Linked DNA regions of Homo sapiens: all the other regions are linked to region 1. Evidence: fine-mapped expression QTL. A gene starts in region 1. Each other region holds a variant in brackets. All regions are shown on one strand. Distances are between the middles of the regions. Region 1 holds the start of TMEM63A (transmembrane protein 63A). Region 2 overlaps EPHX1 (epoxide hydrolase 1). Region 3 overlaps TMEM63A (transmembrane protein 63A). Region 4 overlaps TMEM63A (transmembrane protein 63A). Region 5 has its middle 15 kb from the start of MIR6741.

Region 1 (4,113 bases):
CCCAGGTTAGGGTAGAGCTCTGGGGACCCACAATCTCTCTCAGACCTTTCAGCTCAGTCCCAGCCTGTCCCTGCCCATTAGACACATAAAGTCCAGATCCCCCTGAAACAGCTCCGTCCCTCTGGCTCTCCATGGGACAGCTCCTCTGCATTTTCACAAACAGGCACGCTCTGAGCAGGCAGCTGGGAACACAGACACCATGGGACAGTGCTGCCAGGCTGAGGAGAAGGCAGGGGGAGGGGAGCACCCAGCTGGCAGCTGTATAGAGGAGGCCAAACCAGCAGCTAGGCACTGTGGTTGAAGTGGCACTGCCTGGCTGAGAACCCCTGGCAATATTCAGTCATCCTAGATGTATGTGAATGCCTAGCACTTACCTGTGCCTTCCAGAAATTCTCCATTCATCCCCTTATTCCTACTCAATATGCCGAGGGTAGGAAAGCCAAGAATTACTGCTGAGGCCCAAGAGCCAGAGTGGGCAGCAGGTGACTTCACGCTCCCAACCCAAAGTTCAACCCATGTGCAGGCAAGCGTCTGATTGTGGCCAGTGGGAGAGGGCTAAATCCAACAGCTGGTCTAAATTTGCCAAAGTAAACTACCTATGCTAATCCACTGCCAGTCTCCATTGGCAGCAAGGACTGGCCTGGTGGTCAACTTGACAAGCTCTAGAAATACCAGCAGAATGTTGCAGGAAGTATATGGATATTGTTCGTTCTTGCAAGAAGGCCCGTACAAATTCAGGGTAATTTTATCATCACCAAATCTTTCAATCCTGTGATGACAATAGCGAAACTACAAGCAGCTCCAGGCCTTCTGCCTCAGGAGCTAACTCTGGTCTTTCAGATGCAGAATAAGGTTGCAAAGTAAAGTACAAACTTCTCCTTATGGCAACACCAAACAGGACCCAGTAACCTGGACAACTGTTTACCTCCTACCCTGGAGCACAAAGGAAATGACACAGCCCCTGGCTGAAACCAGAGGCAGTGTGGCTCAGGGATTATGTGAGCAGGCTCTGGAGTTAGGGTCTCAGCACCACGCAGTTCAGACAAGCAGCCTAACCACTCTGTGCCTTGGCTTCCTTCGCCAGGAAATGCGAGTGATGACTTTCTCTCACGGAGCTGTTGGGAGGCACAGATCCCAAACAACACCTGTAAAGCACTTAGCCCAGGACCCGGCCCTAGCAAGCAATTAGAAGCTGTCTGCCTTTATTTTAAGTCGCCCCTCCAGCTAATGGGAAACACAAGGGCAGGATCCCACCTGACGTCTTCTCTGTTAGAGCCCAACGAACAGCTAGGAGAGACCTTTGCCCCCACACTAAACAAAGGAGAGGGGCGTGTGAAGGGAAAAGGAGCCTCGGCTTCCGTTCATATCCCCCTTGAAGGCACAGCAGACTTGAGGATGACCTGAGAGGTGTCAAGGGAGGGTCAGTGGGTCCGCCACGCTGTCCACCCCTGCCCTTGAAGAGGACACCACCTGCCTGGGGCTGAATGACCAAGGCCCCTCCAGGGCCTCAGGTAGCTAGTCTTATCAGGTGCTGGAACCTTTGCGGATTTGGTTTCTTAGCAGAGCTCGCCTCACCCTTTCCGCCCCCGCCCTTCCCCCCAGTCCCCGAGTCCCCAGCCTCCCTCCTCAGGACTCCGCCAAGGCTGCAGGAAGTGGTCACCCAGGAACAGCCCGAGGGGTGGCCTCTGCCTTCCTGGCGTCAGGAGAGTCGGACGCTTGGCCCTTTCCCAGCCCGGCCTCGTATAGGGTCCGAGGAGCCCATAGCTGCACTCCTAGTTAGGTGGGAGGTCGGACTCCGCCGACAAATCCCAAAGAGAGGGGTGGGGAAGAAGGAGATACCAGCCCTGAAAGCGAAAAGCCGGAGAGGAAAGTCCTGAAAAGCCGCCAGGAATTCCCAAGGAGCGCAGGGCTGGAATGGAGGCGCTGCCCGGACCCTCTCCTCCCACCCAATCCCGCGTCGTCACCCCCTGCTTGGGGTCGGGGGCTCTGGGGTCTGCGTAGGCTGGGAGCCGTTCCGGAACCGGACACCTGGCGCGCACGTCCCGGGAAAGGCGGAGGGTGCATTGCCCCTCCTCACGCCCCCTGTCCCCTGTACCTGCGGCGGCGGCGTGTCTGGCGGGACCCAGCAGCGCGGGGCGTGTTCCGACCACTTAAAAGTTACAAAGTGAAACTCCGGCGCCTCCTGCACATGCGCAGAGCTGCGGCCACCCCTTTCCCAATTTGGAGTCTTGGCCCGCGGCGGCGCAAGCCTGTACGCAGCTGACTGCGCCTCCCGCGGTGGCCCTCGGCGGTCCTCTGCCCCGGCCTGGCCTCCTGGTCGCCGCTCAGCCCCGCAGCTCCTCCCGGAGGTCTGCAAGCCCCGGACCGGCCAGCTCACGTCCAGGCTCCAAGAAGGGATCCGCCGGGGCGCACCCTCTTCCGTCCCCCGGCACGAGCCCAGTCTCTGGACGCCTCCGGGAGAACTGGGCCAAGCACAGGGTGGTCGCGGCGCAGGGAGAGCATCTGCAAACGTTGGTCCCTGTAGTGCTTTGAATTTCCCCGAAGAGCTCTTAGACCCGCCCCGGGAGAGTGGGGTTGCGGGGGTGGTAGCATGGGGAGCTCAGCAGGATTCAGCCCGCACCTCGGCTCCGGGTAGTCGGGAACCGCGCGGAGCGCCCTGCAAGAGGCCACGGCTCCCCCGCCGCTGTAGAAGGCCGGACCGTGAAAGCCCGGAGGGTCTCCGTTCGGGCAAAAATGTGGGGGCGGGTCGCAGCATTTCCAACGCCCCCTGGGGCTAGTCCATTACTGCTCGAGCCAGGGCCGCCAAGGGCACCTACTCCAGCCCAGGTCCGAGAGCGCGGCATGCCTCCCGGCCGGGAGCCAAATGTTTCCAGGGAGCCGGTGGCCTCCACAACCGGACCGCAAGCTCGCGAGGGCAGGGCCGGCCCGCCGCGCCAGGGACTGCTGGGCGCTGCGCGGGAAGCGAGGCTGGGTTCGGGGAGGACCGCGCGCCCTGGGAATCAAGGAGCAAACCAACCCGTCCGCAGGCCCCTGTTTCCCTATCTGTGAAATGAGTGGTTGGACCAAAGCTTCCTCTCAGGTCCCTTCCAGCACCCCTCTCTGAGCTCTGAGCAGTCCTCACCCCACATGCATGCCTTTGCAGGTTCTCCGACCTCCCTTCCATTTCTGAGCTTTCATCTTTTTCTGTAACGGCATAAAAATATCCTCCTTATGGCCGGGCGCGGTGGCTCATGCCTGTAATACCAGCACTTTGGGAGGCCGAGGTGGGCGGATCACCTTAGGTCTGGAGTTCGAGACCAGCCTGACCCGCATGGAGAAACCCCGTCTCTACTAAAAATACAAAATTAGCCGGGTGTGGTGGCACATGCCTGTAATCCCAGCTACTAGGGAGTCTGAGGCAGGAGAATCGCTTGAACCTGGGAGGCGGAGGTTGCGGTGAGCTGAGATTTCACCATTGAACTCCAGCCTGGGCAACAAGAGCGAAACTCTGTCTCAAAAAAAAAAAAAAAAAAAAAAAAATTCCTCCTTACCTCCCTGTCCCTGATTCTAGCGCCAGTCTGTGGCTGTCCAGGAGTGGGGTGGGGAGGGTCTCTTCCTGCCTCTCTCAGTTCTTTTCTGTCCCATCTGTCTTTCCCCTTCTCTCCCCAAAGCTCTAGCCACTAGTTATTTTCCAGGGTTTTTCCTCTATGCCCCCCGCCAGTATCATCTCTGCCCTTGTCCCTCCATAGCTGCGCCTGGCCATCCCCCCTCCCTGCTCTCTTACCTCCACATCTGACGGTCTGCAGAGTCCTGGGTGTGGCCCCTGGACTCCCCGTTGGCTCCTTAGACTGTCCCTGTCCAATCTTTCTTCCACTCCCCACTCCCGCACCTGCCTGTCCTCCTTCCTTCCTCAATGAATGGTGCCCCCACCTGTCTGGTCTGTGCCATGGGTCCAGGCAAGTGCAAGGTTCCGGTCTTGGTAATTAGAATGCTGGAGCCACTGACAAAGATTTCAGAGAGAGAAAGGATTTCTAAATTTGTTCTTGAGTAGGTTAAGGTTATTTCAAAATCAAGAGAAGGCCTTGATGGATCGATATGTGAGTTGAGATAGCCACAGCCTTTGTTATGTCAGTT
Region 2 (4,113 bases), 37 kb before region 1:
CTCATTCCTGCAGGCAGGTCCTCACCTCCTCCAAGAGCCTCAGCAGGGCCTTCGTCTGGGATCTGTTTCCCCTGCCCTACATTCAGCAGGACACAGGGGTTGATGGAGCTTCTGCAAGACCACCTTGGCAGGGGGTCTGGCCTGCTCCTTGCACACGGATACCTGGAGCAAGATGTGAGGCCCCACCAGACTATCCCACTAGGCCACTCCTGCAGCTCTGGCCCCGGGTTACAGGGAGCACCAAATCCCTGAGCAGGAGGTAGACAGGATCAGATCTGTGTTCTAGAAAGAACAGGAATACACTAGGGTGGAAATGGTGGTCGTGGTCGTTTTCAAGCTGCGGGCAGAGCTGAAAGGGAGATGGAAGCACTTGGCCAACTTGCAGAAATCCAGTTCACAGAGGTGATGTGTATACTGGAACTAGTTTTCATTGACCAGTTTTCATTTTGCCACCAAAATCACATTGAAAAGGCTGTTCCCTTTATCTCTGTCCCTGCTCCCTGCTGCTGTTGCTAGAGATTCAGGGTTTGAGTGAGGAAGGTAGGGTTGGGAGGGCGTGCTCTGGGGAAAGTGGAAGGTGGGGTGGGGGCTGTGGAGTATGCATCCTGGACCCAAGCTGGCTAGGTTTGGATTCTCCACTTAATAAGTAAAATGGAGATAATAGTACCTATGTCCCATAGGCTGTTGAGAGGAAAACATGAATTAAAAGAAGGTAAGGAGCTTAGAACATGCTGCCTGGTATGTGGTCACCACAGTAGCTGGTGCCCTGAGCAGTTTCACGGTGCAGGGGTTGAGGGGAGGGAGGAGAGGTCAGTGGCAGGAGAGAGGGGACAGGTGTGTAGAGGCAAGGTGGGTGGGGGGAGGACCTTGGGGTGATAAGAGACACTTCAACTAAATCCATGCGCTCCAGTCTAGTGCCCTGGGCGCAGCCTGCCTGTGACACGAGGATACCACACACGTTGCATGAGGTCTGAGGAGGGAAGCCGCATGGGCAGGGCCTGGCATTTGTAGGACTTTCTGGCTGCCCTTTGTCACACAACTGCATGTGGCACTGAGAGTGGGGCTTTGTGTTCTGCGTTCCCAGGAAGTTCTCCCTGGACGACCTGCTGACCAACGTCATGCTCTACTGGACAACAGGCACCATCATCTCCTCCCAGCGCTTCTACAAGGAGAACCTGGGACAGGGCTGGATGACCCAGAAGCATGAGCGGTGAGCCTGGCTGAGCCGAGAACAGGGGCCTCTGAGGCTGGAGGCAGGGGGACGGCCAGTCTTGGGCTCCACGAAGGGCACTTGGTGGTGGGATAAGTATAGCCTTGCCTGCAGGTGCCCCAGGGGCCCTTGGATGGGAACACTAAAGGTCGAGGTGTTTGGAGAAAGCCCTCATGGAGGGACCAGGTGCCTGGCTCCCGGGCGGCCCTCAGTACCGCTCCCCAGTCTAGGATGCTGGTCTGGAGTGGCACTGATGGTTCTGGGATTTCCAAGTCTCACATGGAAACCCTCAAAGGTGGGGATTTAGAGGCTGTCCCATGCCCCTGCCTGGGTGGCCCTCCCAGAAAAGAGAAGGCCCTCAGTGAGGGGAGAGCGGTTGAGACCCTGGATTTGTCCTTTTCTTTATGGCTCCTTGTGGGTGGGCCAGCTGATCTCACCCCCAGGCGCTTTAACCCCCTGCTGTGCAGGACGGAGGGGCGCAGGGCCACAGCCTCACCCCTCCGTCGGCTCTTTCACTTCCAGGATGAAGGTCTATGTGCCCACTGGCTTCTCTGCCTTCCCTTTTGAGCTATTGCACACGCCTGAAAAGTGGGTGAGGTTCAAGTACCCAAAGCTCATCTCCTATTCCTACATGGTTCGTGGGGGCCACTTTGCGGCCTTTGAGGAGCCGGAGCTGCTCGCCCAGGACATCCGCAAGTTCCTGTCGGTGCTGGAGCGGCAATGACCCACCCCTCTCCCCCCGCCTGCCACCTCCCCCCACAAGTGCCCTCCAGGCTTTTCTTGGGGAAGATACCCCTTTTCTGAGGAATGAGTTTGCCTCCGTCCCCTGCCCATGCTGGGAGCCCACGCTCACCCCCTCACCCCTCCAAGCTCACTCCCCAACCCCCAACTCCGTGTGGTAAGCAACATGGCTTTGATGATAAACGACTTTACTCTAAAAGCGGCTGGAACTCAGTGACATGAGCGTGCGCTGACCCCACATGGGGCCCCCTGTGCAAGCAGAGCTGGCCGGCCCCTCCTTGCTGGCAGAGGCACGGGAGGCCTGCTGGGGATGAGGCCACTGGCCAGGGCTATGCTGCACCAGACCAATGGCACCGCCCCCACCCCTCCCAGCGCAGGGGCAGCTTGGAGCAGAGGCAGCACTGGCCACC[A/G]CTGCGGGGGCAAGTCAGCGTCAAGAGAGTCCCTGAGTGAGAAGGCCCAGATAAGCCCAGGCCCCCCAGGCCAGCGGACAGGCACAGGCAGGGCCTACAGAGGTGCCAAGGCCCCAGGCCAGTTGTGCTAGGAGCCTGGACCTGCTCTTCCACACCCCCATCCCGCCCCTACTGCACAGGCTTGTGCCTTGGTGCCCCCTGGAGGCAGCAGGGAGGAGGCTTCTCAGGCAGAAGTCTTAAGTTGCATCCCATTCCCCAGAATCCCCAGGAGGGAGAAGAGGGATGGGCTGCCCCTCCTTCCTGCCAGAGCCACAGCTCAAGGGCAGTGGGATGGCCCTGCACCCAGCCCAGGTACCCCTTCCTCTGTGCCGACCATGCTGTCCTTTGGCTCCGAGGAGGCCCTGAGCACTGCCCACCCCCACACCTTGGAGGGAGCAGACGGAGGGGGTGAGTACTGCACAGAGCCTGCCTGGAGGTGCAGACTCATGCACTCAGCCCTGAAGAGGTGAGAGAGGCTGGATCTTAACTGTGGTCCAATGGGCATATTATGAGTGGTCCTTGTCCCTGCCTGCTATGGGGTAACCCTGACCCAGCTAGCGTCCCTGACAACATGATACAAAAACACAGAACTCTAGCGGGATACAGAGATGTGTGCACAGCTGGCAGGAGCACTGGCCACCTCCCAACCTGTTCCCCATAGCTTACTCCTGGATGTAGCCTGGAGGGACTGCTGGGCTGGGGAGGGACTGGCCATGGAGCAGGGAGCTGGATGCCAGCGGGACCTCAGACCTGGACTGCAGCATCTCTTTGGTTATCGGTTGTGTGTGTGCTCAGAAGGGAGGAGGCCTTCCCCTTGTTACATCTCTCTCTCCATATATTCTCCCGGACTCATCAGTTTGGGGGGCGAAAAGTCCACCACATGGTCTTGGCGACAAACCACTGGGGATGTCACCCCAGCTGCAGAGCTGGAAGCTTGTGCCGGAGGGGAAACTGGGTGAGCAAGGGAGGGGCGAGGCCTGCCTGTGCTCTCCTCACCACTGCTGGGACCAGAAAAGATGGGCACCTGATAGCTCAGCTGGGCAGTCCCAACGCATTCCCACTCAGCCAAGGGCCTGAGCCCCAGGCCATTCTGGTTGTGTCTTTTCAGAGCAGTGAGACCTAAAACAGATGGGAAGAAGTCATGAACTTGGGAGTCAGGCCGCTTCACCTGTCTTCTCACCCCACAGGCTCCCCTGAGCCTGGCCCAGCCAGCAGCTCACCCAGCCTCAGGCCTCCTGGGGGGCAGCAGCCACACTGCCCGTGGCGCTCTGCGCCAAGCACTGTCCAGGGATAGTCCCGCTGATGTTGTGGATGGCACCATAGGTCTGCTGCTGCTGCTGCTGCGGAGACAGTGCTGTCCTCTCCGAGGCCAAGCCGTTCAGAATCCGAGGCACGTAGGGCTGTCAGCAAATGGATTTGTGCTTGGCCTGGACAGGCATGAGCTTCCACACTGCATCCCTCCCCTCCTGCCCTTCTCCCAACAGGACACAGACAGTGGCCATAAAGGACATATGAAGAAACACCGACATCCATTTAGGACATTAAGACCGAAAATATGACACCTGCAGAATTTCCTAGCAGCCAGGGCAAAAGAGAAAGCACAGTTATACAGTTCTCATGATCACAGAAGGAAGCACAAGAGAGCAGTTCTCAGAGGAAACTAAACTTCCTAGCCCTGGATCCTAGGAGGATTTCTCACTTTGTAGAAGAAAC
Region 3 (4,113 bases), 29 kb before region 1:
TTTTTGAGACAGAGTCTCTGTTGCCCAGGCTGGAGTGCAGTGGTGCGATCTCGGCTCACTGCAAGCTCCGCCTCCTGGGTTCATGCCATTCTTCTGCCTCAGCCTCTCAAGTAGCTGGGACTACGGGCGCCTGACACCATGCCCGGCTAATTTTTTATATTTTTAGTAGAGATAGGGTTTCACCATGTTAACCAGGATGGTCTCGATCTCCTGACCTCGTGATCCGCCCACCTTTGCCTCCCAAAGTGCTGGGATTACAGGCGAGAGCCACCGCACCCGGCAGTGTATGTCTTTCATCCGTCGCTGGGTCAGGGTCTGTGGGACAGACCCTGCACCAAGGGAGTCACAGTGTCTGTGATCCTGTCCCCACAGAACACTAACATTCCAGAATCATCTTGGAAAGAGGCTGTTTCACAGTTGGATGCCTGGCCTCAATTCCTCCCCAGCCCTTCCCATGCTGAGCCCCTGTATGTCAGTGCTCCCACACCCCTGGCCTTCTCCCACCCGGCTGATCCCTGCCCTCATCACAGTCAACAGAGAATGAGGCCCAAGGGTCTTACCCCAGGGGTGGCACAGGAGCACACAGGGGACCAACAGAAAGTGGGTGCTGCCTTTTCTATTATGCCAGGTTCTTTTGTTTTTTTATTTTTTATTTTTTTTGAGATGGAGTCTCGCTCATTGGTCAGGCTGGAGTGCACTGGTGCAATCTTGGCTCACTGCAACCTCTGCCTCCTGAGTTCAAGTGATTCTCCTACCTCAGCCTCCCGAGTAGCTGGGATTACAGGCGCCTGCCACCATGCCCAGTTAATTTTTGTATTTTTAGTAGGGACAGGGTTTCATCATATTGGCCAGGTTGTTCTTGAACTTTTGACCTCAGGTGATGCACTGCCTAGGCCTCCCAAAGTGCTGGGATTACAGGCATAAGCCATCGTGCCCAGCCCCAGGTTCTTTTTTAAAAAATAAATTTTGTTTTGAAAGTGTAAATACTGTAGATTTTTAAAACTACACAAGAAAGTATACAGGGAAAACTAAAACAACTTTTCCCCCTAAAACTCAGCTATCACTGCCAGCAGTCTCTTGGGTTTTTTGTTTCCTTCTAGAGCCTTTCATTAATCTGCCAGTTGCAGATGTTTTATTTCAGTGGCCAGGACCTTGGTCTTTAAACAGTCCTGAGTTCAAAGGCTGGTTCTCCTGCTTACTAACAACATACGAAGTTATTTTGTGTGAAGGGGGAATAGAAACAGGAACTGCCTTGTAGGATGAGGTGAGAAATGTGGTAATCCACGTGGAGGCAGGCATCTGCCAGAGTGAAAGCAGCACGAGAGCTTTGATTGTGACTCTGGCACTGTCTTACTTGCTGCTAAAGAAATCAACCATGAACGACATAGTCAGTGGGCAGAGAACCTCAGACCAGAAATACTAAGAGAGGTCCTAGCTGAGGGCCAGTGGGAGGAATTCATTTAAAAATGAATGAGGCCGGGTGCTGTGGCTCATGCCTATAATCCCAGCACTTTGGGAGGCTGAGGCGGGTGGATCACCTGAGGTCAGGAGTTCAAGACCAGGCTGGCCAACATGGTGAAACCCCATCTCTACTAAAAATACAAAAAGTTAGGCAGGCATGGTGGCGGGCACCTGTAATCCCAGCTACTCAGGAGGCTGAGATGGGAGGATGGCTTGAGCCCAGGAGGTGGGGGTTGCAGT[A/G]AGCCAAGATCATGCCACTCCAGCCTGGGCATCAGCATGAGACCCTGTCTCAAAACAAAAAAAGAAAGAAATGAGTGAAATCTGGTGTCACGTGAGTCTTTAGCAGCTTGTGGCTCTTGTGGCTGTGGTTTTGGGAACTCCATTGTGCCCTGGTGATAGCTGTCCCCGAGAGGTTTGGTGCAATCAGCCGTCCATGTACCCATGTACCCTGGGACAGGCTCCAGGGCCACTCACCAAATGGCGCGATGATGGGACAAGTGATGCTGTAGGCCACGATGACAGTGAAGACACACAGCATCCATGCATACATGGCTCCAAACTCGTACTGGAAGGCCTGGTTCTGGGAGGAGGAGGTGGTGAGGAGCTCATGGACTTGTTCCACCTCAAACACCCTTTTGTGCTCTCTAAGTGGTGATGGGAGAGCAGGGTGGAGGAGGACTTTGGAAATAGGAGATGCGTGGCTCCCCGCCTCCCAAGGTCCTTCCCATCCCTCCCAGCCTGCCCTGCTTCACTCAGTGCACCCAGCCCTCCCGAGGCATGGTGATGCGTGTTTGCTAGTGCTCCCTTCGTTCCACCCAACAGGCATGTGAGCCCCTGGAGGGAAGAGGTGGTCAGGGAAGAGGTGTAGAGTGACTCCAGCCCTTCTAGCAGGGGATCCTGGGCCAGCTTAGTTCATGCCTCTGTGAAATCGGGATACTAGCAGTGCCCAGCTCATAAGGGGGCTGAGAATGAAATGAAGGAATGCAGCACTTCTCCCACTTTCCTCGCACAGTGCCCACCATGGCAGAGGAGAATAAAAGAGAAAGCCACACCCTCCAGTTCAGGGAATCCTGGAATAAATGCCACAAGCCGAAAATGCCTTTGACATCTGGGGTTTGGCTAAGAATTTATGCAAATGGGTGCCTACAGAAAAAGAGTCTGTTGGTTTGAGTTGTATGTATGTATGTGTGCGATCAAACCGTTTCAAATGCCAAAGTCCCAAGCTCTCTCCTCCAGCCTGTGAGCTAGAGAGGAGGCTGGAGGAGGCCACGCCTGCCTGGACCCGGGTTTGAGAAGCACTTAGCCCAGTGCCTGCACTAGTGGGTAGTCAGGTAAATGCTACCCACTAGTGGGGGTAGTGGGGGTGAGAGGCCCTCGGGTCAGTGAAGGGGGACATGGGAGGGAGTCAGAGGCACAGCCCTGGGCCCAGGGGATGGCACCTGCTTGACATTCCTGCGGTCAGCAGCCGTCTTGGCCATGATCATGCGGAAGGTATAGAGGATGAGACCTGGCAGCCGCAGCAGCTCCATGCCATTGCCGATGAAGGCCGAGGCGATGACATAGTTCACAAAGAAGGCACCCTGGTCAGGCAGGAAGACGCACCTGGGGAAACCAGGGCCCAGGTCTGTGAGCTGAGAGCCGCTCTTGGAGGGAGAGGAGGGGCCCCTAGGCTGGGCAGGAGCAGAAAGCCCCTGGGAGGGCTGTATACTCTTCCGTTCATTCAGCACATATTTGGGAAACACATCTGTGTGCCAAGCACCTTTCTAGGCACTGAGAATAGAACAAAGCCCCTGCGCCACTCTCTTGAAGTTCACATTCTAGCTGGGGGCACAAACAAGCAGACAAACAAATATTCCATCTGCTGGGGACGGTGAGCACTAGAGGAAAACAAAGCAGGGAGGGTTCCTATGTCATACAGGGGTTGGAGGAGCCTTTCTAACGAGGTGATATTCGTGCAGAAATGTGAAGAGGTGAAGGAGCAAGTCATCCCCAAACCTGGGAAGACAGGATTCCAGGGAAAGGGAACAACATACAAGACACCTGAGGATGTCCTCGTCTGCTGCACATCCAGGGGCTGGACAGCAGTGGGCGAGGGGAGGCAGAAGACAAGGCTGAAAGGGGCTGGGGGCCAGCCCAGGACAAGGGATCTGTTCCAATGGGGTCAGGGAGACTACACAGATGGCCACTGTGTCATCCCCATGTGGGATGAGGGCGGTTGTGATGGAGGTGGTGAGATATGAAGGGATTCTGGATCTACTTTAGAGAGAGTTGTCAGGATTTTCTGGTAGGCTGGGTATGGCATGGGAGGGATAGAAAGGAAACAAGGTGAACTTTGAGGTTTTTTGCCAAAACAAGTAGAAAAACAATATGGAATGGGGAAAGTTGTAGAGTAGCAGATTTGAGGGTAAAAGTCGAGAGTTTGGTTTTGGGCAGGTAACATCCGTGGTACCCAGTAAAACTCCAGCTAGAGTTTGAGGTGGGCAGTTGGGTTACCAGCCTGGAGGTGCAGGCTAGAGGCATAAATGTGGATGTTGTCCGCATAAGTTAATTCAGGAGCAGTATCATGGCATGGAAGCCGTGGGTTCAGCTGAAGTCACCTAGAGAGGCAGTGTGGACCCAGAACTGGGGGCTGAGCCTTCAGGCAGCCAAAAT
Region 4 (4,113 bases), 21 kb before region 1:
TGGAGACAGAGTCTTGCTCAGTCACCCAGGCTAGAGTGCAGTGGTGTGATCTCGGCTCACTGCAACCTCTGCCTCCCAGGTTCAAGCAATTCTCCTGCTCAGCCTCCCATGTAGCTGGGACTATAGGCGTGTACCACCACACCCAGCTAATTTTTTTGTATTTTTAGTAGAGACAGGGTTTCACCATGTTACCCAGGGTGGTCTTGAAATCCTGAGCTCAGGCAATCCGCCTGCCTCAGCCTCTCGAAGTGCTGGGATTACAGGTGTGAGCACCACGCCCGGCCCCAGCGTGGCATTTCTTAGACACATCTGCAATGCTTTGTGACTAACGACACATTCTTCCCAACGGGGCTGTAGCTGGGGTACAGGAAGGAGGAAGGCAGGGACAAAGGAGTGAAGGCATAGCTTGCACCTGCCCTGGCCTCTCATCCCAAAGAACAGACCCACAAAGCAATCCTGAGTTTAGGAAGCCTTGTGAACCAAAGAGCAAAACTGTCAGAGGCAGAACTAGAACCGAGCAGAGGGGAGCACTTCAAGCTCATTCTGTGCAAGGAGCTGAGGCAGGGCTGGACAGGCAGCTGCGCTGGGGCTTGCGCTGGGTGCCCTTACCCTCAGCACAGCACTGGAGGCTCACCAGGGCCCCCATGGACACAGCTCAGCTCCCCAGCACGGCCCCAGGCTGACACTGGACCTAAGTAAGGCTGCACAAGCTGCATGCGGCTACTGAGCATTTTAAATGTGGCTGGTGTGAATTGAGAGGTGCTAGAAGTGTAAAATACACACCAGATATTGAAGACTAAGTGTGAAAAAGAGAATGTAAAACATCTCACATTTTTCAAAAATTGCATGTTGAAATAACAGTTTGGATATATTGGGCGAGATACATTATTAAAATTAATTTCAACTGTTTCTTTTTACTTTTTTAGCATGGCTATTAGGAAATTTAAAATTAGATGCAGAACTGGCATTATATTTCTGCTGGGTAGCACTTGAATGCTAGGGAGGAACACTGGAGGGAAGGGCTGGGCAGATACCCCAGTTGGGCCACACCGAGCACATCACAGCATCACAGCCCACAGAATTGCAGATGTGTGGAGATCTCCATTGACTGCCAGGTCACACCTGTGCTCCAGGTGATGGGCAGCTCCCACCAGGAACCCAGGCCTCTCTCCCACCTCTCCTTGGTCTAGGAGCTTACCAGCAGATGTCCTCAGGGTCAGCAGCAAAGGTGACTGTCCACTTGGAGGTATAGAGCTCCCTGCTATGGGAGGACGGCTGGGGCTCACCTTTGCACTGAAGGCTCTGACACTTGCAGGCATTGAAATCTTTCAGGATGCTGCAAGGAAATGTAGCAACAGCCAGGCCCAGGCTACTCAGGTTACCAAGCACACATGTGGCAAGTGGGGACTGAGTAGGAGTGGGAGGCAGTGGCATAGGACCTTTGCTTTGTTGTGATTAGTGTATTATGAGTAACGCTATGTAAGAGGTGCCACGCTAGCACAGTGTGTGGAGAATTTTGTTTAATCCTCGCAACCACCAGCAACAAAGGGAGTACGATTCCCATTTTACAGATAAGGAAACTGAGGGCAACACACTGCTCTTCCATAGGGCCATCCCCCTCCACCCTGCCTGTTAAGCTGGAGCTCTGATCAGTGCTACTGCCAGGCCAGTGGCTCAACTTTTCATTCTGTCACTTTTTCCCCAGGCCCAAGTGTAGCAATAGACCACGTTACACATTGCCTGTTCCCAAGCTTCCCTCCTCAGGGCTCCCACCTCGACCCTCACCATCTCAACAGGTCACAGCTTTTCCTCCTTTAACCTCCCGTAAGGAGCCCAGCAGCCCCTCTACTCCTGCCTCAGATGCCTTCCCCTTTCCTCCTGCCCCAGTGTCTGCAAGGAGGCAGGAAGTCCTGTGTGAGTCCATTCCTAGTGTCACAATGCCTGGGGCAGTGGCTGGACACCTTTCCACACCCCTCTCCCGACCCACCCTGTGCTGCTCCTAAGGCGAGATGACACTGAGACCACAGGCATGAGAGCCTAGAGTCCCATGCCAAGGGCCACTGTGAAAAGCCACTCCCCAGGGTCAAGCTCCCCACTGCAGTGAGCGCCCCAGCGTGCCCCAGGGGTCTTCC[CCA/C]CAGCTTTGCATTTGTGGGAAGGTGGGGAGCCACAGACAGAAGGATCTGTGGCCCAGAGCAGATGTCTGAAAGGAGGGTGCCTCCATCTCCCCTGGGGCAAGGCTGGCACATGAAGCCAACAGGATGGGTCCAGGGCAGCAGGGAAGAGCCCAGCAGTGGGGCCAGGCCACATCAGCTCGAGGGGGTCAGCCAGAATCACCCACTCCGTGGCTGCTGCCCACACCCCCACCGCCTGTTACACAAACATGGGCTGGGCTGGCTGAAAGTGAGTGTGGGTAGCTGAGGGAGGAGAAGGAAACACCACAGATAAATCCCAGGGATGGTGGGTCAGCAGTACCATCTCCACTCGAGAGGGACAGTGAGTTATCTGGAGGGGAACAGGGAGTCAGCCAAGAAGGGGTCTGGATGTGCCTACACTCACTAGGTGGCCATGGACTTCTCCTGGAAGGTGACGAAGGCCATTCCCAGGGGCTGGTCCTGGACGTGGCGTTCTTCCTCTGTGATCCTCTCCAGCAGCCTGTCCTTCATCCGTGTGTAGTAAGAGATGGCGTCTTCCTGCCACAAGACACATCCCATTGGGATGACGTGGCCCCATGCTGGTATCTGGGGCACCCCGATGCCAATGCCTCTGCTCCCAGCCGGGGGGTGGGACCCTTACCCACTCACAGCCCAGCACTTCACAGCAGCAAAACTGGCCACAGGGCTTGGGGTTGATGAGGGTCCGCTGGCCTGTCTTCACCTGCAGGTTTGTGTAATAGGTCAGGCTCTTCTCAGTCTTCTTTCTGTAGGGGTGGGAGCGGGGGCACAAACCTCAGATTTAGAATCCTGTGGCAGGGACCCCCATACCCACAGTTCAACCATCGAACGCCAGGGGAGAAGGAGGGGTCCAGGGCCTCCCGCCTCCCTTCCTAGCTGGGAGATGCGAGGCCAGCAAGGAAGGAGGGGGCATCTTGCAAGGCCCGCCCACCACTCACTTCTCCTTGCACAGGTAGATCAGTTTGGCCACGTTGTAGCACAGCTGCACATCAACCACCTCACACGTGGGATACGCGTCCCTGTGGCCAGGGAGAGAAGGAGGCAAAAGACACCGTTGGAAAAGAAAACACCCCAAGCAGGAGACGTGCCCACGGATCCAAGGGAAAGGATGGCAGAGTGATCTCGCTGCTGGTTTCTGTGCCAGCGGAGACCTCTCTTCTCTTTGTCTTTTATCCTCCAAAAGGGGGAAATTTTGAAATTTAATACAAAGAGGGCTTTTGTTTTGTTTTGTTTTGTTTAGAGACAGGGTCTCACTCTGTCACCCAGGCTGCTGTACAGTGGCACAATCATGGCTCACTGTAGCCTCAACCTTCTGGGCTCAATCAATCCTCCCACCTCAGCCTCCTGAGTAGCTGGGGCTACAGGCACATGCCACCAGGCTGATTTTTATTTTTTGTAGAGACGGGGTCTCGCTATGTTGCCCAGGCTGATTTCGAACTTCTGGCCTCAAGCACTCCTCCTGTCTCACCCTCCCAAAGTGCTGGGATTGTAGGCGTGAGTCACTGCACCCCGCTAGCCTTTTTTAGTAGTATGAAGCTAACTGCCTGGAACTGACAAGTTTATACCCACTTGGCTTGGAATCAGCTGGCACTTCTCCTGGGGAAAAATGAACACATCACTATCCCCTCTAAAGACCCAAAGGAACAGATTTATTGTTTGTGCTAGGTCAGTATCTACCTTGAGCCATCACTGAAATCCTATTCAGGTAGCCTTTTTTAAGGTCACAGACCTTTCAGAGGGTCTAATGAAAGCAAAGGACCCTCAGACCAGAAAATATCTACACACATATTAACAACCAGCAAGGCCAGGTGCGGTGGCTCATGCCTGTAATCCCAGCACTTCGGGAGGCTGAGCCGGGTGGATCACTTGAGGTCAGGAGTTTGCGACCAGCCTGGCCAATGTGGTGAAACGCTGTCTCTACTAAAAATACAAAAATTAGCCA
Region 5 (4,113 bases), 25 kb after region 1:
GGAGGGCTCTGGCCACCCAGGAATTCCCAGAGCATCTTCTGACAGGAAGGCACCTAGTGCATTGTTCATGGACCTTCCTGTGAGGGGGCAGCACCAGTGGCCTGTCCTCCTCAGCCCAGTGACAGCAGGTCCTTGCTGAAACCAGCCCATGCTTCCAGCTCCAGGGAGCTCCCAGCGAGTCCAGATGTTGGGAGGTTGGGGAGGAGCACAGCTTGCAGTGTCAGACCAGGGAGACCCCTGGGGTGGAGTCTGGAGACCTGGATTTGGCAGGGCTTTGTCACCGACTCATAACCAAGACATTCTGCACCTTGGGTCTGAGGAACAGAGATCCTACAATTTCAAAAACAGTAAATGTCTCCAACCTTTCAGAGCAAGAAAGCTGCACAGTGTAACTGAGAAGGGAGGTGGATCAAGCTATTTGGGGGAAGCTAGGAAGAGGGTCCTTCCTCGCCCTGAGTCAAGGCCCATCCTTCTGGTCCCAGGGCCAGACCTTGCACTTGCCTGGACCCATGGCATAGATCAGGCAGGGTGGAGGGGGCACCATTCATTGAGGCAGGGAAGGGAGGACAGGCAGGTGCGGGAGTGGGGAGTGGAAAGAAGATTGGACAGGGACAGTCTGAAGAACTGATGGGAAGTCCAGGGGCCACATCCAGGACTCTGCAGAAGGTCAGATGTGGGGTCTTTGGCAGGAGGTAAGAGAGCAGGGAGAGTAGATGGCCAGGCACAGCTACAGAGGTACAAGAGCAGAGATGATACTGAGGGGAGCACAGAGGAAAAACTCTGGGAAATAACTAGTGGCTAGAGGTTTGGGGAGAGAAGGGGAAAGCCAGAGGGGACAGAAAAGAACTGAGAGAGGCAGGAAGAGACCCTCCCCACCCCACCCCTGGACAGCCACAGACTGGCGCTAGAATCAGGGACAGGGAGGTAAGGAGGATATTTTTATGCCGTTACAGAAAAAGATGAAAGCTCAGAAATGGAAGAGAGGTCGGAAAATTTGCAAAGCCACGCATGTGGGGTGAGGACTGCTCAGAGATCAGAGAGGCTTGGTGCTGGAAGGGACCTGAGAGGAAGCTTTGGTCCAACCGCTCATTTTAAAGAGAGAGAAACTGGGGCCTGCGGAGGTCACCCCACTGTAGATGGTGAGCCAGCCTGGAGTCAAGCATCTATAGGTTAGAGGATCTAACCATATCTCCAAGGTCCAGGCCTCATGGTGCCCCTGGAGCCCCTTGTTCTCCTTTGGGAGAACAAAAATCAAATTAAAAAGCTGATTATTTTCTGGCTCAGCCTGAGAGGCTCTGCTACCTTGGTTCTGTAATTAAAAATGAAATAATACATAAAGCGAAGGAGAGAGCTGGTCCCCAGGGCTGCCGTGGGACCAGCCCTCATTTTCCCACATAAGGCTTCAGCTTCCTGCCCTGGGTCTCCAAAAGCAGACGGTGATATGGGGGACAGGTTGAAGGCTGGCCACATCAACTTTCAGGCCAGGAAAGCCCCACCTCAGATCAAAGCCAAGGCTGCTGTGCCCCTGGGAGGGAGCATTATGTGAGCCTGTTTGTGGGTCAGCATTGACAGGGCAGGCCTGGGGAGGCCTGTGTGACTTGAGCATGAGCTGAGGGAGGCTGCAAGGGGATTGGACATGGCACAGGGCAGTGAGCTGTGTGGCCTTGGGC[A/G]GCCCATGACCCTCGCTGGACAACGGGGAATTTGACCTGCACCACGTTCGTGTCCCTCCAGGGTCTCTGGATCTAGACTAGGGCTGTTTCCGCTAATTAGGAATCATCTCGGGTGTGTGTTTTATTTCCACTTTCCATGTTTACTGTTGGTGTTTCCATAAGAAGTTTCCAAGATGTGTTAGTTTGGTGTCAAATAAAACAGAAGCATCCTATGGTGTGTGTGTGTGCGTGTGTGTGTGTGCACATGCGTGTGGGAGCATGTGTGGGTGTGTCCATGTGTAAGTGTGAGGCTGTGACTGTGGCAGTGTGTATGATCCCTTCCCGGACCACGAGCTGACTGAGGGCAGCACCGAGGCCAAGGCTGGCTCTGTGGCTGCCCCATGCCCACGGAGTAGGCTCCTGAGGGTCCTGTGACATGGTTTTGGATTTTGTTAATGAAAGATGCTGGTCCCTGGGAAGGTTTGATCCTCCTGCTTGGTACCTGGAAGCCCCCAGAATGTGTCCAACAACAGAGTTCAGCCTTTTCCTATCTTACAGCCCAAGGTCCTTTGGCCACCAGATGGGAGCCGCCACAGGCCGATTCCAGACAGGCGGCAAGGAGAAGGAAAAGAACAAAGCTGGCCCCTTCAGAGGTGGGCAAGATGAGGAGTGCTCACAGTGGTTCACAGTGGGGGTTGAACTGGGGCTCTGGGTCCTGTGGCCAGGGGTTCAGGGGTGGTCGTGACCGCCTTTGTTCCAGGTGTGGCCTGGGCCTGAAGCAGACTCTGTGTGAGGAGTGGGAGGGCTCCCTGAGGAAATGGCTCCCCTGCAGCCTGGATTTCCAGCTGCTCAGCCCAGCAGGGAAGGGGTCAGTGCGGCCTGAGCCCTGCACACCACAGCTCTGGGGAGCGGCCTGTATTCTCCATGATGAAGACACCACAGCCCTGGCTGGGGATGACCAGCGGGGCCTCCACAGCCACACTGACCTTCGTCTGAAGTAGGTCTGCCTGACGGGTGCATTTGCCATGCAGCCTCATTCTTCTCCTGAGCATCCTCCTATCCAGGGGTCTGGGTTCAGGAACGTGGCCCTCCTCACCCTGCCCCTCTCACCCAGGCCAGCTGGAGGCTCCACTCCACCCTTGTGCTGAAATCCTCCCCCTGCTTCCCCAGGCCCTCTGTCTCCTTCTTCTCCCTCATCCCTTGACTCTTCATGATCTCCAGGCTGCTTGACATGGGCTGAATTGTGGACCCCCAAAATTCATATGCTTAAACTCTAACCCTCAGTACCTCTGAATGTGTCTATTTGGACATAGGGCCTTTAAAGAGAAAATTAAGTTAGATGAGGTCACTAGGATGGACTCTAATCCAGTATGACTGGTGTCCCTGGTCTTGAACTTCTAGCCTCCAGAACTGTGAGAAAATAAATTTCTTTTTCTTTTATTTTTTGTAGAGATGGGGTCTTGCTGTATTGCCCTGGCTGGTCTCAAACTCCTGTCCTCAAACAATCCTCCCACCTTGGCCTCCCTCCCAAAGCACTGGGATTACAGGCATAAGCCACCATACCTGGCTTTCTTTGGTAGAGACAGGGGTCTCACCATGTTGCCCAGGCTTGTCTAGAACTCCTGGCCTCAAACAATTCTCCTACCTCAGCCTCCTGAGTAGCTGGGATTATAGGCATGAGCCACCACCGTGCCAAGGTTGACAAACACATTTCTGTTGCTTAAGCGACCCAGGCCTGGTCATTACAGTTTTGCTGTAGCAGCCCAGGAATGTGATGTGCCACTCTGCCTACACTGATGTGGACTCAGCTCCAAGTCCACAGTCACAGTGCCAGGTTGCAAACCCACATCTGTGCCTCCAGATTCTTCTGAGGCCCTGCCTCTTTCCCTACGGTCTGAAAATGGGGGGCCCACCTCCCCTTAAAGAGGAACTCCCGATGGCAATGGGGTTCAGCGCAGGCTCCAGCCATGCTGCTCATCTCATCTCGGCCCTGGGCAACCCCAATGAGCCTCATTTTTCTCATTTGTGAAAACGGGCGTCAGATAGAAACACGCACTGGATAGGGTTGTTTGTGGGGACTGGGGAAGGTTGGGGAAGTCCAGCTCCAGCTTTGACCTGTATCTGGCACTCCATGAACGCAGCTTTTATTTTTATTATTCCTCTCAAACCTATCCCCTTCCAGGATTTTCCAGGTCAGTTAATGGTGTCACCAAGCAGAAGCCTTGGCCTGGCTTCCACACCTGCTTCTCTCTCACCTGCCCTCATCTCATGGCTCAACAATCCTCATTAAATACCTGCTAAACAATAGCCATTGTGCTCTGCACTGAGCAAACAACAGGAACCCTGTAGACGGTGGAGGTTTTAGCTTATCTGTGCATTAAACAAATTGAATTTTAAACAAGCAATTGATATTAGGGGGATACACTGGGGGAAGCCAAGGCTCTTTAAGCCTTGTGGATTACCC

The links. PIP is the estimated chance that this variant, and not a neighbour inherited with it, causes the effect.
Region 2: its variant is fine-mapped to the expression of TMEM63A in monocytes after LPS (Fairfax 2014, PIP 0.95). The same link has a PIP of 0.9 or more in monocytes and monocytes after interferon gamma.
Region 3: its variant is fine-mapped to the expression of TMEM63A in whole blood (TOPMed, PIP above 0.99).
Region 4: its variant is fine-mapped to the expression of TMEM63A in lung (TOPMed, PIP 0.90).
Region 5: its variant is fine-mapped to the expression of TMEM63A in whole blood (TOPMed, PIP above 0.99).

The regions. Positions count from the first base shown.
Region 1 is chr1:225,880,209-225,884,321 of GRCh38, forward strand. It overlaps TMEM63A (transmembrane protein 63A), which reads right to left and starts at 2,172. Exons shown (of 25, transcript NM_014698.3): 1 at 2,096-2,172. RefSeq lists enhancers at 1-728, 2,931-2,980, 3,041-3,090 and silencers at 1,581-1,700, 2,261-2,420.
Region 2 is chr1:225,843,414-225,847,526 of GRCh38, forward strand. EPHX1 (epoxide hydrolase 1) reads left to right here. Exons shown (of 9, transcript NM_001136018.4): 8 at 1,085-1,210; 9 at 1,733-2,150. The coding sequence ends at 1,934. TMEM63A (transmembrane protein 63A) reads right to left here. Exons shown (of 25, transcript NM_014698.3): 24 at 3,621-3,800; 25 at 2,123-3,519. The coding sequence ends at 3,627. Among named protein-coding and RNA genes, the nearest start is that of EPHX1, 35 kb to the left of the region's middle. RefSeq lists an enhancer at 2,493-3,303. The variant A/G (reference allele first, on the strand shown) is at 2,362.
Region 3 is chr1:225,850,729-225,854,841 of GRCh38, forward strand. TMEM63A (transmembrane protein 63A) reads right to left here. Exons shown (of 25, transcript NM_014698.3): 19 at 2,901-3,063; 20 at 1,936-2,041. Among named protein-coding and RNA genes, the nearest start is that of TMEM63A, 30 kb to the right of the region's middle. RefSeq lists enhancers at 1-48, 1,433-1,482 and a silencer at 1,293-1,342. The variant A/G (reference allele first, on the strand shown) is at 1,702.
Region 4 is chr1:225,859,662-225,863,774 of GRCh38, forward strand. TMEM63A (transmembrane protein 63A) reads right to left here. Exons shown (of 25, transcript NM_014698.3): 11 at 3,110-3,190; 12 at 2,794-2,917; 13 at 2,557-2,690; 14 at 1,199-1,336. Among named protein-coding and RNA genes, the nearest start is that of TMEM63A, 21 kb to the right of the region's middle. The variant CCA/C (reference allele first, on the strand shown) is at 2,133.
Region 5 is chr1:225,905,027-225,909,139 of GRCh38, forward strand. No RefSeq gene overlaps it. Among named protein-coding and RNA genes, the nearest start is that of MIR6741, 15 kb to the right of the region's middle. RefSeq lists an enhancer at 1,410-2,183. The variant A/G (reference allele first, on the strand shown) is at 1,671.